Linked DNA regions of Homo sapiens. The protein of the gene in region 1 purifies or fractionates together with the protein of each later gene. This does not show direct contact. Each region holds a gene or a part of one and is shown in the gene's direction. Other genes may lie near its edges. The genes, in order: CLMN, TAOK2, UQCC1 and WDR36.

Region 1 (3,500 bases):
TTTTGTTTTGTTTTTTGTTTGAGGGGAGATAACACTTGAAATTCAGTTTTCCATTGATTGGATTGAGATAGAACCATGATTTTCAAACCAGATCGCCAGGGCCCAGCAGGGCCATATAAAAGCCATGAGGAGTGGCTGGGCTGGAATCAGCTCCCAGCAGTGCTGGAGCTGGGTGGTGGGGTAGCTTCCTGCCCACTAAAGCTTTGGTGCACACCTCCCTCAGAATGCATGTCTTGGAACGGGCATTCTTTGTGGTCACTTGTAATGGGTTTCTTGAAGAGGCTTTCTGGACAGCACTCCGGGAGCAGGCCAGCACAGGAGGTTTGTGAAAGAAGAGAGGCATCTCTAGCACCCCTGCCCCCAGTCTTCCTCAGCCCCAGGCTCCCTCTGCTCTCTCCTCCCTGCCAAGACTCAGGTCCGTGGTGAGTCTCTGCATTGGTTCCTCCTCCCCTTGCTCTCCCCTTCAGAAAGCATGTACCAGGCAACCCTTATAAAATCACAAATGAGTCAGGAGGGGACTCAGTGAGCATCTTGTCTAGCTGGACCCAGAGAGACAGAGCAGCTTGACCAAGATCATATAGCCGACCAGGGGCAGACTTGCAGTGAGCACACAGGCACCTGATGCCCTGTCCAGAGCTGTCACCCCTTGTAGGAAACTTCCACTGGGCACACCAATGTCCTGAGAAAAAGATAAAATGACTAGATTAAAATGTCCACATTCAAGCAAAACCAAAAAGTTTAGACCAACTATCGACATTTGTTTTGTTCTTGTATTTTTCCCATGAGGAATTCTTACTCACCTTCAAGCTCATCCCCAATTCCTTCTGAAATACCCTTGACAGCTGCAACAGCTTGTCATTTGACATACCAGCGTCGCTCTTACTCCAGGAATCACGTTTCTTTCTTTGCTAGCCAAGGACTTGCTCATTTCAAGCAGTGGGTTTCAAGTTTACAGAATTCCAGCATGGCCAGAAGAATTTACATAGCACATCTGAGTCGATGACAGCCAAAATCTGGCCTCTAAACCAGTCTGATTATAGTCTGTCTCCCCTCCTGAAAGAATTTCAGCCTTCCAACCAGAAAGCTGCTGGGAGCTTGGAGTGATTCCATCTGGAAGGCCAAGAGCCCCATGGAAAATGAGCTAATTAATGAGCTCCCTGGCATCAATGAAAGCTCAAAGGTACAGATAATAAAGATTATGTGATAGTTTATAACTCTGGGCACCATGCAGTCCTTGCCTAAATTAGATGCTCGAAGAGCCTGGGAAGAGCCAACCCAAATGTGAATCATTTCATTTTATGGGTCTAGACCTTGTTCAGAAAAACCTCTGCAAGATACTTCTCTCACCTATTACAACTTGTAATATTGTTTAAAACATCTACTGGCAAGATGCCTGAAAGTCATTTGGTTCAGGTTGGCAGTCAACTGATATTTTGCAAAGGAAAAAAAAATCTCATTTGAGTATAGGCTTCTATGGAAGAAGCTGGATATAGAAAATGGATGTGGAAGTCTGCAGGACAAACCACCCCATTGCTTGTAAATTTTTTTTAAATTAAAAGAAATACAATAAGGCTTTTAACAAGAACTAGCAGTCCCCTAAGTCTCGCTGCTTAGAAGTAACCACTTTCAACTCTCTTATGTTTGCATTTCTACATAACGTGCTTACACTTTATTTTTTAATTTAGAAACATCTACTGGCTTGCTGTCACAGTAGAGGAGGATTTCACTCTTACCATACCGTGCTTTGGTTTTCCAGTATAGCTAGATCACATCATTTAGTACATTTCTATTAGGTGTTGACATTACCTGGAGCACTTAAGGATTGTTGACTCCCAAGCCCAGCAGTGTGTTATGGTTACATGTCCTTTCTCCTCCAAATGTCCCCATTAATTTGCTATTCTCTCTCTTTACTTTTTTTTTTTTTTTGGTGTGGCACATTCTTTAATAACTTCCTGAGGAAGAGAACATGGGAAGTAAATATGGTTGTAAATATTTTGAGATTTTTGCATGACTTAAGATGTCTGTATTCTGCCCTTAACAGAAATGTGGCTGAGCATAGAATGACAGGTGGAAAATAATACCCTCCCCTAGCCCCTCCCAAGCGTGCTGGTTGAGATTTCTGATGCCATTCTGATTCCCGTACCTTTATATGTGACTTAGGTTTTTTTATCCACCCTTCCTGGAAACATTTAAGATCTCTTTATTCTTGGTGTTCTGAACTGTCATGATGGTGTTGTATCCCGGGTGTTAAACCTTGTGCTGGGCCTTCATGGGAAATTTCTTAAATTTTCTTGTGATTATTTACATTCTTTCTTTCTGGACCACCTATTATTTCAATGTTGGACCCTCCCCTACACCCAGGCTGATGCTCTAATATTTTTTATCTTTTCTATTTTTCGTCTATGTTTCTGATCTGCTTTCAGGAAGAATTATTCATTTTTATCTTCCCAATCTGAATGTTTTATTGAATTTTTATTTTCCAAGTTAATAAAACCTTTGGTTATTATCCTGTCTTTGTTTTACAGTGTCCTGCTCTTGATGCGTGGATGCAGATTTTGTCTCTCTGTGGACGTTAATGATTGTGGTCTGAGGGGAAGTCTTTTCTGCTCCCTGTGTTGCCCTCATTTTCTCTGAGTTCTCTTTATTTTGGTGGTCTCAGTCTCTATCTTTCACGTTGTGAATTTTTCTCAAATATATGGTGATCCTATGGATCTGTTCATGTTTTAAGAGTGAGGCATCCAAAAGCTGATTGGAAGTTGTGTGTGCCAACTGGTGAGCTTTTCCACTAGGGTCACCAGGTGGGCACCTGGACTCATCATTGGAGAACACTGCCTGTCAGTATTTGCACGTGTTTTCTCTGGGGCTCATTCTGTTTCTTGAGAGATATTCCCACTACTCTCCTTCCTGGGAAACGGGCATACACAGGGCTTTTAGCCTATGCTGAGTACTCATGTGGTTTCAAAAATGGTGTCCCATCTGGGCAGAAGTCCCCATGAGCACTTGGCTTGACTGGCAAAGGACACCTTTTGCCCCTTCCTCCAGACATACCCAGCTCTGAGCTTGGACAATGCTCGAGGAACAATGAAAAGGCTAGATTTTAACTCCTAATTGCCCTCTTTAGCCAAGTGCCTCTGTGCAATGCACAACTGTAGGACCATATCCAGAGACCCTGGTCTATACTCAGTGTGCCCGAGTCCTGACCGCTGAGCAGGCAGCCTCATCACCCGTGAGTATTTAGACTTTCATTAAGTTGCTTCAACCTTTGCTGTGCCTGGTGTCCCTGAGTTGGAGCTGCTCTGATTTCTCCATGGAGTAGGAGCACAGTGGTCATCTGGCTGCATGGGAAGGACAGGGGACCTCAGAGCCAATAAATGCCCTGGTCTTCAGCCCCATGTCTCACCCCATCCCTCCTATTCCAATCCCCAAGCCTCTCCTGGAGGCCACAGGGCATCTCTGCTGACCACTCTGTGGCCTCCCCTCTGCAGGCATGTGGTTTTAGG
Region 2 (4,256 bases), on another chromosome or scaffold:
TAAATTCTGACAAGTGCTTAGGCTGGAGCCTGTCTTGGAATCTCCTTGAGGGTTTTGGTTCTGGTATCCTGCAGGAACTTTCTCCGGGTGTTTGGTTGGGTGCCCTAGGTGCTCTTCCCAATGGCTGGAGTGGTCAGGACAGGCTTCCTGCAAGAGGGGAGCTGAGCTTGGGGTGACAGCTGAGAGAGTAATGGATACAGGCCTAACCGGGGAGCCGAAGGTCCTGTTCTCTGACCTTGGAGAAGTCCTTTTTCTTCTCTGTGCCTCAGTGACCTCACCTAGGAAATGGTGATCATGATTCTGCCCTGCCTGTTTCGAAGGGCTGCTCTGAAATCATAGTGATGGAGGACCAGCTTTGGACAAGGCACTTAACCTTGCTGAGCCTGTTTCTTTATCTGTAAGATAGGGGAAATCATAGTACTTGCTTCATAAGGTTGTAGTGAGGACTGAATAGAGATAATGCACGTAAGGTACTCAGTAAATGTTATTTGTACCCTGCAAATGTCCTGTACCTGTGTGTGATGCTTATGCAGTTGGACAGGACAAGTAAGGTGGCCCAGAGCACAGAGAGGCCCTCATAGCCAGATGCCATTTATATCCCTATTCTTCCCATTCTAGATCTCCCCCTGACTTTTTTGAGAGTGACTTTGCGGGCTCCTCTGGGCCAGTACCCACTTCTAACAATGGACGGATTTCCACCGCCTCCGGCCTGGCCATTTCCTGTTCTCTTCCAGGGTGTGAGAGGTTGAGGGAGGAGGGGGCCTCAGCGCCAAGGGGAACAGAAAGGTGCCTGGAAACAGTTGGGGTATAGGACTTATGGGACAGGACACTTGGGGCTCTGGAGTGCTGGCTGGGAAGCAGAATGTTTTATCCTTGAGGGGAGATACAGGGGCTATAGGGAAATGAGAACTTGTTGAGCACTGAAGGGGGTGGTGAGGATACTTAGCTTCCCAGAATCTTCCTAGCAGTTTTAGGGACTCCAGGGACCCAGCCCGCGTGATCTGGTTGCCAGGGCAACTTCATTTTTTGGAGCTTTGATGTTGTTCCTAATCTCCCCCTCCCCTTCCTCAGCAGTGCCTCCTCCTCATCAGGGAATGAGGGGAGGAGATGGCAGAAACTTGATGGGTCCCTTCCTCTCCCTGAAGGCTCAATCCTTGATCTCTAAGGGTCCCATTTCCATTCCTCAGGCCAGGCCCCACTCTCAGGGCCCCCAGGGGCCACCATGCCAGCTGGGGGCCGGGCCGGGAGCCTGAAGGACCCAGATGTGGCTGAGCTCTTCTTCAAGGATGACCCAGAAAAGCTCTTCTCTGACCTCCGGGAAATTGGCCATGGCAGCTTTGGAGCCGTATACTTTGTGAGTTGGGTCTTGGGAGGGTGTAATAGGGATGGGGACTCTTCCTATCCCTGTGGACTTCCCAACAGCCCTTGCACACTACTCCATCACACTGGTCTTTCCTGCCTTCTCTTGCTGGGCCAGCAAGTCTTCCCATGCCCGGCTCTCAATGGGGCCTTCAACACCTTCTGGTCTGGTCCTCTAGGCCCGGGATGTCCGGAATAGTGAGGTGGTGGCCATCAAGAAGATGTCCTACAGTGGGAAGCAGTCCAATGAGGTGGGCCAGGTGCAATACAGCCAGGTTGGGGACAGGGGACTCCTGTCTCAAGATGCAAGCTGGGTAACCTCTGCCTACCCTGACCCCCTAGAAATGGCAAGACATCATCAAGGAGGTGCGGTTCTTACAGAAGCTCCGGCATCCCAACACCATTCAGTACCGGGGCTGTTACCTGAGGGAGCACACGGCTTGGGTGAGCTGGTGCCAGATTCTGGCCTGATCTTTACTCCTATTCATGCCCGTCCTTATCGTAGTCCAGTCTCTTAGGTGGTCCCTGTTCGTGGTGCTGTTGTGGGATCTTGGGAAGGAGGAAGTCTCTTTTGACCGCTTTAGTCCTCAGACATACCCACTGAGCAAAAGCCTGGCTCAGTGACACAGGCTGTTAGCAGGTGGGACAGGTCACTGTGGGCTGGAGAAGGTGGAGATTGAATGGGAGTTTGAAGGGATTCAGATGGGCAGTGGTGAATGTCTTGGGCCCAGACTCTAGAAACTCTCCCACCACCCCCTCATTGTCTCCAGTTGCGCTTCCTCCCTGTCATCACCCCGGGGACATAGCTTGAGTACAGGACAGTCAAGGAAGCTCTGTTTTGAGTCCCTGCCCAGGAGACTCTGATCTCTGACCCTTGTCTCTTCCTTAGCTGGTAATGGAGTATTGCCTGGGCTCAGCTTCTGACCTTCTAGAAGGTAAGTGACTGATAGGCCAATAAGTGGAGAAGGGAGAAGAGCAGGGGAGCCATAGGGAAGGGTTAAGGGGAGTTTATTCCAGTCCCACCCTTGCGCTCCCTCGGGTTGATGTTCTTCCTCACTCTCCAGTGCACAAGAAACCCCTTCAGGAGGTAGAGATCGCAGCTGTGACCCACGGGGCGCTTCAGGGCCTGGCATATCTGCACTCCCACAACATGATCCATAGGTACAAGCAGCACCGGCAGTGCCTGGGAGGGGAGTGCTATCTGCACCACCTGTCACTTAGCTGGGCTGCCCCTGCCTAGCTTTCTTGAGACACATGTCTCATCCCTGTACTTTGCCTCTGGCAGGGATGTGAAGGCTGGAAACATCCTGCTGTCAGAGCCAGGGTTAGTGAAGCTAGGGGACTTTGGTTCTGCGTCCATCATGGCACCTGCCAACTCCTTCGTGGGCACCCCATACTGGTGAGTGAGTGAGTGGTGGTGAGTGGAGAGACCTCCCAGGGATGTTGGGAGTAGGAGTGACAGGGTCTCGGCGGGTGATTTGCCTCTCTCTCCTGACCATTCTCCTAGGATGGCACCCGAGGTGATCCTGGCCATGGATGAGGGGCAGTACGATGGCAAAGTGGACGTCTGGTCCTTGGGGATAACCTGCATCGAGCTGGGTAAGAACATCCTCCCTGTTCCCTCATCATCTTTTCCATTCTTTCCTGTTAGTTCCCAGACTCCGGACTACCCCCTTCTCCTAGGGATGGGATCCCAGGCCTCCAAGTTCCTGTCCGTTGTGACTCTACCCTGGAGCCCAATACAGGCAGCTGGCAAATTCTGCCAGCTCTTAGGCCTAGAGATTTTGTAGCATTCATCTCTTCCTGTCCACTACCCTGGTTCTGAATCTTTTCTTAGTGCCCACCATGTGCTGTGCCATGGACTGTGATTCTGGAGGGATAGCAGTGAATGAAAATCCTGCCCTCATGGAACTTACATTTGATTTAGGGAAACCAGGCAGGCATGTTTTCTTTCAATGTGATGAACGCTGTGTGGAGAAGTTACAGGAGCGGTTCAAATGTAAAACAGGGGACTTGACCTAGTTTAGGGGCTGAAGAAGGCCTCCTTGTAGGAGAATATTGAAGCCAACCTGCAAGATAAATAATAGCTGTTTGCAGAATGTAGGGAAGAGCTTTCCAGGCAGAGAGAACAGCATGTGAGAGGCCTAGAGGTAAGTGCAGGCCTGGGGAACTGGGACTAGCTTCAGTTATTTGGAACCTAGCATGTAATGCAGAGAATATTGAAGGATAAGGCCAGAGAGTTAGGTCCAAGTGAGTTCCTAAGGCCTTGAAGCCATGCCAAGGTTCTCATCTCTGTCAGCCAGCACTATTGAAACAATTCTTTAATGAGGTAGGTAACCTTTATAAGGCTTCCAACACAATGCCAGGCACAAAACAGTTGCCTAAGAGTTGCTGTTAGTTTCTCTTATCAACAGCCTCCTGCAGTGATCTCTCCAGTCTCTTCTCCCTTCCAGTCTGTCTTAAGTACTGATGCCAGAGAGGTCTGCCTAAGCTCAGTGCTGTCATTTCACTCCCTGTTTGGAGCCATGAGTGGCCCCCTGTTGCCTTCAAGACTGAAGCCATCCCCATCCTTCCTCCCACCAACCTAGAGGCTTTGCTTCGTAAATGCTGGCCCTTTCCTTCATGGGCTCCACCCTCTGAGTGTGTCATGAACTCTTCCACTTCCTTGCCTTGGTTCGTATTGGGTCCTCTGCCCGAGGTCAGAGATTTGGACGAGCCCTTCTCCTCCATCTTCACAGTCTCCATTTACCATTAGATGCCAGGCCCAGACAGTTGATGAAAAATGTAAGAAACGGACCCAAGTATAAGAAAAAGCTAGATCTGTCCATTTTATTTCTAGTTTTTGGAAGAGATGTGGATACAGAGAAATATTACTCTACTATTGAAAAAAATATATA
Region 3 (4,256 bases), on another chromosome or scaffold:
CATCTTGGCTCACTGCAACCTCCACCTCCCGGGTTCAAGCGATTCTCCCGCCTCAGCCTTCTGAGTAGCTGGGATTACAGGTGCCTGCCACCACGCCCGGCTAATTTTTGTATTTTTAGTAGAGATGGGGTTTCACCATGTTGGCCAGGATGGTCTCAAACTCCTGACCTCAGGTGATCCCCCTGCCTTGGCCTCCCAAAGTGCTGGGATTACAGGTGTAAGCCACCGCACCCGGCCACTTTCTTATAGTTCTTTAGACATATTTTCATTTAGATCTTTGAACATATTTGAAATAGTTAAAAATCTCTTTGTCTGCTGCCTGGGTTTTCTTAGAGACAGTTTCTATTGATTGCATTTTTTCCCCCTGTGTATGGGCCATACTTTATTGTTTCTTTGCATGTTTTATAACTTTTTGTTGTTGAAAACTGGACATTTTAAATAATGTGGCCACTCCGGAAATCAGATTGTTTCCCTTCCCAGGGTTTGCTGTTGTATTTTTGTTTAGTGACTTTTCTGAATTGATTCTGTAGTCTGTATTCTTTGTTGTTTGTGGCTACTGAAGTCTCTGCTTAGATAGCTTAGTGGTCAGGTAATGATTAAACAAATTTCTTTAAATTTCTGTTAAATTTCTTAAAATTCTGTTCTCACTGCCTGGAAGCAGTGAGTATCCCAGTTTTTGCTTTGGGGCTCTGTGTGCACGTTGGGATGTACCTATAACACTCTGCCAGGCATTCGATAACTCTGCCTTAACTTTCACTTCCTGCTATGCAGAACCTCAAGGTCAACCACAAGTAAGAGACATTCTTAGGTCTTTCCTGAGCATGTGCACAGCTTTGGGTATATGCACAGACCTGGGTATGTTCATGGCTTCCTAGATGCCCAGGAATATATTGGGGCTTTTCTAAGCCTCTGTGGACATCTTATTCCCCAGCTTTTCCTTTAAACCTTTTTGGTTAGCCTGTTGTTTTCTCCACCTGTTAATCACTGCCTCAGGAAGCCATGAAGTCAAACAGTTACCTCTATTTGTTTTCAACCGGTGCTCCTGGGGAAAAGGTTTTTTCACACTGGGTGAGTTCTAAGACAGCCTTGAAATAGGGCCTTCTAAGGAACTGTCAGACAGGTTGAATAATGCCAGTTCTTTTTTTTTTTTTTTTTCAGAGTCAAGCTTCTTTTTTTTTTATACTTTAAGTTCTAGGGTACATGTGCACAACGTGCAGGTTTGTTACATATGTATACATGTGCCATGATGGTGTGCTGCACCCATTAACTCATCATTTACATTAGGTATATCTCTTTTTTTTTTGAGATGGAGTCTTGCTTTGTCACCCAGGCTGGAGTGCACTGGCGCAATCTCAGCTCACTGCAAGCTCCACCTCCCGGGTTCACGCCATTCTCCTGCCTCAGCCTCCCGAGTAGCTGGGACTACAGGCGCCTGCCACCATGCCCGGCTAATTTTGTTTTTTTTTTTTTTTTGAGACGGAGTCTCGCTCTGTCACCCAGGCTGGAGTGCAGTGGTGCAATCTCGGCTCACTGCAAACTCCGCCTCCTGGGTTCACGCCATTCTCCTGCCTCAGCCTCTCCGAGTAGCTGGGACTACAGGCACCCGCCACCACGCCTGGCTAATTTTTTGTATTTTTAGTAGAGACGGCATTTCACCGTGGTCTCGATCTCCTGACCTCGTGATCCGCCCGCCTCGGCTTCCCAAAGTGCTGGGATTACAAGCGTGAGCCACTGCGCCCGGCCACGCCTGGCTAATTTTTTGTATTTTTAGTAGAGATGGGGTTTCACCATGTTAGCCAGGATGGTCTCGATCTCCTGACCTTGTGATCCGCCCTCCTCGGCCTCCCAAAGTGCTTGGATTACAGGCATGAGCCACCACGCCCGGCCTAGGTATATCTCTTAATGCTATCCCTCCCCGCTCCCCCCACCCCACGACAGGCCCTGGTGTGTGATGTTCCCCTTCCTGTGTCCAAGTGTTCTCATTGTTCAATTCCCACCTCTGAGTGAGAACATGCAGTGTTTGGTTTTCTGTCCTTGTGATAGTTTGCTGAGAATGATGGTTTCCAGCTTCATCCATGTCCCTACAAAGGATATGAACTCATCCTTTTTTATGGCTGCATAGTATTCCATGGTGTATATGTGCCACATTTTCTTAATCCAGTCTATCATTGTTGGGCATTTGGGTTGGTTCCAAGTCTTTGCTATTGTGAATAGTGCCTCAGTAAACATACGTGTGTGTGTGTCTTTATAGCAGCATGATTTATAATCCTTCGGGCATATACCCAGTAATGGGATGTCTGGGAATAATGCCAGTTCTTTGTAAGGCTTTGATGAACATCATCCCCATTCTGGAGTCAACTTGTCTCCTGAGGAGACTAGTTCCTTTAGTGGTTGTTGCTATTTAGAAACCACATCTGGGTGCTACATGTGCTTATTGCTACTGGAGTGTCATCTGCAGGCCCTACCAGGACGTGGGTAGGAAATATATATATGTCTATATATACACATAAACATGCATATATCTTTTTCTTTATATATTAAAAGCCCACACCAGTTATTCTAATCTATTCTAATACCACAGGGTTTGTTCTACTCTTTTGCCTTGCCATATTTGTTAACTCCTTTCTCTGATAGAAACCTGACCCCTCACCCTTAATGTATTTATTGATTTATTCAAATCTTTCCTGTATGTAATCAATCTTTTGAAAGCTCAGATTGAAAACTCCCAAAAAAGTGGGAGGAGGCAGTGTATAGGTAATTTTTTTTTTTTTTTTTGAGACGAAGTCTCGCTCTTGTCCCCTAGGCTGGAGTGCAATGGCGCGATCTCAGGTCACTGCAACCTCCGCCTCCCGGGTTCAAGCAATTCTCCTGCCTCAGCCTCCCAAGTAGCTGGGACTGCAGGTGCATGCCCTCATGCCCAGCTAATTTTTTTGTATTTTAGTAGAGATGGGGTTTCACTGTGTTGCCCAGGCTGGTTGCAAACTCCTGAGCTCAGGCAGTCCGCCTGCCTCGGCCTCCCAAAGTACTGGAGTAATTTTTTGTTATTGTTTGAGATGGGGTCTCACTCTGTCACCCAGGCTGGAGTACAGCAGCATGATCTCTGCCTACTGCAACCTCCGCCTCCCGGGTTCAAGCGATCCTTGTGCCTCAGCCTCCTGAGTAGCTGGGATTACCAGCATGCGCCACCATGCCCGGCTAATTTATATATATTATATATATATATATATTTTGTTTGTTTGTTTGTTTGTTTGTTTGTTTGTTTTTTGAGATGGAGTCTCGCTCTGTCGCCCAGGCTAGAGTGCAGTGGTGCGATCTCAGCTCACTGCAAGCTCCGCCTCCCAGGTTCACGCCATTCTCCTGCCTCAGCCTCCCGAGTAGCTGGGACTACAGGCGCCCACCACCACACCCGGCTAATTTTTTGTATTTTTAGTAGAGACGGGGTTTCACCATGTTAGCCAGGATGGTTTCAATCTCCTGACCTCGTGATCTGCCTGCCTCGGCCTCCCAGAGTGCTGGGATTACAGGCGTAAGCCACCGCGCCCGGCCTATATTATGTATTTTTTAGTACAGACGGGTTTCACTGTGTTGGCCAGGCTGGTCTCGAACTCCTGACCTCAAGTGATCCACCCACCTCAGCCTCACAAAGTGTTGGGATTACAGGCGTGAGCCACTATGCCCGGCCTGTATTCAGTAATTTTTGAAGGAATGGTTAAACATTCTCTTCTTCCCTCTGTGGAAATATCCTTTTGTATTATAGCATGCCACATTGTAACTGGAAGGAAAGTTTGTTACCGTAGTATCTGTTCTTTGGACTCCGGAATTGAGTTAGTATCCATGGCATTTGGAATATAGGCACCAGTGGTGACTTATAAAGTGGATTTCGGCTGGGCATGGTGGCTCATGCCTGTAATCCCAGCACTTTGGGAGGCTGAGGCTGAGGGATCACCTGAGGTTGGGAGTTCGAGACCAGCCTGACCAACATGGAGAAACCCCGTCTCTACTAAAAATACAAAATTAGCTGGGCGTGGTGGCGCATACCTGTAATCCCAGCTGCTCGGGAGGCTGAGGCAGGAGAATCACTTGAACCCAGGAGGCAGAGGTTGCGGTGAGCTGAGATTGCGTCATTGCACTCCAGTCTGGGCAACAAGAGTGAAACTCTGTCTCAAAAAAAAAAAAAAAAAAAAGGTGGATTTCATGTTTATAATTGATTTTCGTTATTCACAGATTCTATATTTGTGAACTCACCTAGTTGCTAA
Region 4 (4,256 bases), on another chromosome or scaffold:
ACCATCCAAATTGTTTTTTTCCAAAGTCCTTTTAAATTCAAAAGGGAAAATAAGATTATTAAAGGTTTGATGTTTTAAATCAGTGTTTCATTACAATTTAACAAATACCATTGACTGCCTACTTTGTGCTAGGTTCAGCAATAGTGACTGAAATACTGTCTTTGCCCATTTACAGAATTTAATACATGATTTAATATTTTAATGATAATTATAATGATTTCAGATACCTCTGTTTGCTCCATGGATGTGTTATTTATCATTCATGACTTGCTTCTGAAATTGAGAGCAGCATTACTGTTGTCATATAACAGTCATATAACATGCAAATAATATTTTTATTAAAATATAAGTTATTCCCTTTCATGATGTTTCTATAAAGATACTGCAGTCCTAAATTTTTTTTACTGTAGCCTGTAATATAACATGATTTTTACACACGTATTTTTTTTTCCACTTAGGACATTTAATTTCTTAATGAGGTGGCATAGCATAGTAGTTAGTTTGAGACCTAGAATTTGTCTGGACAATATTACTAACCTTGTGACATTAGCTTAATCATCAGAATAGTGTGTGGAAGAGTAAGAACTTAATAAATATCACCTATTATTATTTCACTTTTTAATGTGTAGCTGATATTGTTTTCCTCCAAAAAAAAAAAAATACAGCTTTCAACTATTTTTCTTCTTGTAGTAAACTTCTATATACATTTCCAGGATGGAAAGTTGGAGTGACAGCTCTTCAGCAGGTTAGTATTTTTCTGTTAAGTCAAAGAGGAACAAAGTTAATAGGAAAATCCTTCAGTTTCAGGAATCAATCATAATTTTAGACGTAAAGACGAAACAATATATAGCTTAGTTTACCTTTAAAATTGTTAGCCTGAGGAAATAGTGTTTTGGAAATGTAAGTTAAAACAAGTAATAATGCCTTTGCCAATAACACTTATTGGAGTCCTTTGTGCTTATAGTTTGACTTAAATCTGTGGTTGCTATGGATCCTTGTTTCTAATCATTTTGCAAGTATATGTAGTCCATTGTCTTGTGTAGACTGGAAATGAGTGTTCAGCAATGCAAGCGGTATTGTAAGTCATGTAGAGAAATTTGTCAAGATGTTGAGATTTATGGTTTGAAGTAATTGGAGCCAAAATCCTAATGTTTGATTCGATGATGGACTATTTAAGAAATAACTGCTTTTTTTTAATGAATCTGCAAAATATGTATAAATAAATGAATGCATGTCTACAGCGAATCTTGTGTTTATATTGGCCACATATGTAGCCACTATACCCTTATCTTTTTCAGTATCCATTGTCTATACTTGCCCAATTTATATGTATTCCTTATCTTCTCTTGCTGTCATCAGCCTAGCTCCACTTTTGCCTATCCAGAAGACTCCATAAGTATCAGAGGATTAGGACCCTTGAGGACAAGGGATTATATCTGTTTTAGTATCTCCAATTTCTACACAGGGTCTCATGCATAGTAGACACTTGATGACAAATTAATAAAACGTGTAGCCTGATTCCATTCTATAATGATATTGGACATTGATCTTTGCTAAAATAGAGAAATTCATAATAGAGCCTGTATGTAAGACTTGTATTATAGACCATTATAACCATAGAATATTAGAACTGGAACAGACTAATTGTAAAACTTTTTTTGCCTTTTCACATGTTTTGTAGGTTTTTCCTACTTTCTTGGATAAGCAATTCTTCACTTCCTTTGTAATTGGTTACATGTTGCCACACATAGCGCAAGCCTTTATGTTTTCTAGTTGTCTCCTTTTTCTGTTTCCATCCAGTCCAGTGATCTGTAGTGATTTTATACATAGCTTTCTTTTTCTGTTGTGGTTGTTTTCTTTCCAAAATCTTACCAGCTAGGTTTTGGGAATGAGGATGGGATGTTGACTGGCAGAATTGAAGCTGGGAAGTAATTTGGAAAAATCATTACTGAATACTTCTATGCTGAATAAAAAAGTATGCTTGAATGGTAATACTTGCTGAGTTTTTCTGCCATCTTTTAGAAGATACTTCATTATTTCTTTTGATAACACCTAATAATGATGCGTATCATCAGGATTATTAAAGCTATTTTGCTTAAGAAAGTAAAAGTTTGAATAATTTAATTTTTAGGCACCAGCCGTGGATGTTGTTGCTATTGGTCTTATGTCAGGTCAAGTTATCATTCACAACATTAAATTTAATGAAACATTAATGAAGTTTCGTCAAGACTGGGGACCCATTACTTCAATTTCATTTCGCACAGGTAACTTTTAACATACTTATTGATAGGAGTTAAGAACACTTAAAATTCATTACTTTAAAAGTCAATTTTTTTTGTCTTCTGGTAGCTTAATCTAATAGAAGTGAATGAATACTGGAGTAAAAGGCAAAGAAATATGAATAGATTATTGGTATATAGTTTTTTTCTAACTTTATGGATTAAAAGGGAAGAGAGAAGAATTCTTGTTTATTTTGGGGGATCTAGAAGTATTTTTCTTAATGTATTTTATTTTAATAACAGATGGTCATCCAGTAATGGCAGCTGGAAGCCCATGTGGCCATATTGGACTCTGGGATCTAGAAGACAAAAAATTAATCAACCAAATGAGAAATGCACACTCTACAGCAATTGCCGGACTGACATTTCTCCATAGAGAGCCACTTCTTGTCACAAATGGCGCTGACAATGCTCTTAGGGTATTATGATTATTGTTAACATCTTCCTGGCTCATCTAACTTACCCTTTGGGTTATTACAAGCTTGTTTTAATGTATCAGCTTTCAACCTAGAAGATGAAAGGAATATGGAATGAGATATTGGTATAGATGAAACAAAAAGCACAGCAGGTGACATGATTGCAGTGAAGCGGGAAAGAATTACAGTTTATTTCTCCCCCAATACCCACTCCCTCCCTTGTAGCTCCAGAGTCAGTGGCTTAGCAAGCACTACTCAATACCAGTTGATTTATGTAGGGGGTGATTTGACTGCTTGCAGATCAGATGGAACATTGTAGAAGAACTGACGTTTTTATTTCTTGGCAGATATGGATATTTGATGGTCCTACAGGTGAAGGCCGACTTTTGAGATTCAGAATGGGTCATAGTGCTCCTCTTACCAATATCAGATATTATGGACAGAATGGACAGCAGATTCTAAGTGCAAGTGAGCTTCTGCTTCATACTATTAGTTTATTTCAGCAAGTATTGAGATGTGGGTGCCCAGTATGAGGTTTGATATTTACACATACTTAGATTCACATATCTCTTTGAGTGACTTAGAAGTCTGGGTAAAACTAAGAGTCCTTTTTGTCTACTTGAGAAGCACTATAGATGTTATTATCTATGCTTAATGTGTCCTTCTATTTACTAATCCTCAGAGACAGAATGGTTAGATTCTAAAAATTCTGTTAGTCTGCTGAAAATTATTAGTACCTCATTTTCATTTTATCCTTTGTTCTTACTAAATGGCATTCTATAAAAAGTTGAATATTTTAATGAAGTAGTTGCAATCTGGTTTTCCCTTTAAAGTGTCCCAAACTGTAACTTCAAGATTTTCAAATTGAATTTTATAAAATTTGTGATTCACATAGTCCCTTGTTTTAATGAAGCTTGATTAGGGATTTTCTGTGTATATCAACAGGTCAAGATGGAACTCTTCAGTCATTTTCCACGGTACATGAAAAATTCAATAAGAGCTTGGGACATGGTAGGTCCTCTACAAGACAAAATAAGCTGGTCACGAAAGAAACATTTCAACATTCTATGAAACAACTGGAGGAAGTTTCATCAATGCATTTTATTTTTTCTTGGATGAACTAGATAAACATGTATGGAAGAGGTAGTAAGATTCCTAGCATCAAAGTTGCTATAGAAGTGATTGAGGTTCTGCTATAAGGTTATTGAAAAAAGTTAGACATCTTGGGTGGTAAAAACATACTGCTGCCACCCAAAAGATGTTCATGGCCTCACTTGAGCTATCTGTAGAGTGCACAGTTTTTAAAATGGAAGGTAGCTTAGAGAAAGCATCAAAGTAAGTGGCATCCAATATTTTTGCTTTAAAGCAATCATTTATTCTCTTTCCCTTTTCATGGTTTCCAGCCTTTGAAAGATTTTGTTTATTAAACAACAAAATCTTACTTGGTTTTATGATTACTAATTTTTAAGTTACTATCTTATACTGTTCATGCATGTATATAAATTTTAAGATTATTTTTAACAATATCTAAAATAACTTTTCTTAGAATTAAAAAATAACA

Evidence for each region.
Region 2: the proteins of CLMN (region 1) and TAOK2 purify together in Homo sapiens (affinity purification with mass spectrometry; one large-scale study listed by BioGRID and IntAct). This does not show direct contact.
Region 3: the proteins of CLMN (region 1) and UQCC1 purify together in Homo sapiens (affinity purification with mass spectrometry; one large-scale study listed by BioGRID and IntAct). This does not show direct contact.
Region 4: the proteins of CLMN (region 1) and WDR36 purify together in Homo sapiens (affinity purification with mass spectrometry; one large-scale study listed by BioGRID and IntAct). This does not show direct contact.

The regions. Positions count from the first base shown.
Region 1 is NC_000014.9:95,187,409-95,190,908, reverse strand, and holds part of CLMN (calmin), read left to right. Parts: 3' UTR 1-3,500.
Region 2 is NC_000016.10:29,976,551-29,980,806, forward strand, and holds part of TAOK2 (serine/threonine-protein kinase TAO2), read left to right. Parts: intron 1-1,187; 5' UTR 1,188-1,222; coding exon 1,223-1,354; intron 1,355-1,538; coding exon 1,539-1,610; intron 1,611-1,701; coding exon 1,702-1,803; intron 1,804-2,248; coding exon 2,249-2,294; intron 2,295-2,423; coding exon 2,424-2,520; intron 2,521-2,644; coding exon 2,645-2,758; intron 2,759-2,866; coding exon 2,867-2,958; intron 2,959-4,256. UniProt on the Homo sapiens protein: Serine/threonine-protein kinase involved in different processes such as membrane blebbing and apoptotic bodies formation DNA damage response and MAPK14/p38 MAPK stress-activated MAPK cascade.
Region 3 is NC_000020.11:35,401,587-35,405,842, reverse strand, and holds part of UQCC1 (ubiquinol-cytochrome c reductase complex assembly factor 1), read left to right. Parts: intron 1-4,256. UniProt on the Homo sapiens protein: Required for the assembly of the ubiquinol-cytochrome c reductase complex (mitochondrial respiratory chain complex III or cytochrome b-c1 complex). Involved in cytochrome b translation and/or stability.
Region 4 is NC_000005.10:111,101,655-111,105,910, forward strand, and holds part of WDR36 (WD repeat-containing protein 36), read left to right. Parts: intron 1-690; coding exon 691-745; intron 746-2,131; coding exon 2,132-2,264; intron 2,265-2,522; coding exon 2,523-2,698; intron 2,699-3,042; coding exon 3,043-3,163; intron 3,164-3,640; coding exon 3,641-3,706; intron 3,707-4,256. UniProt on the Homo sapiens protein: Part of the small subunit (SSU) processome, first precursor of the small eukaryotic ribosomal subunit.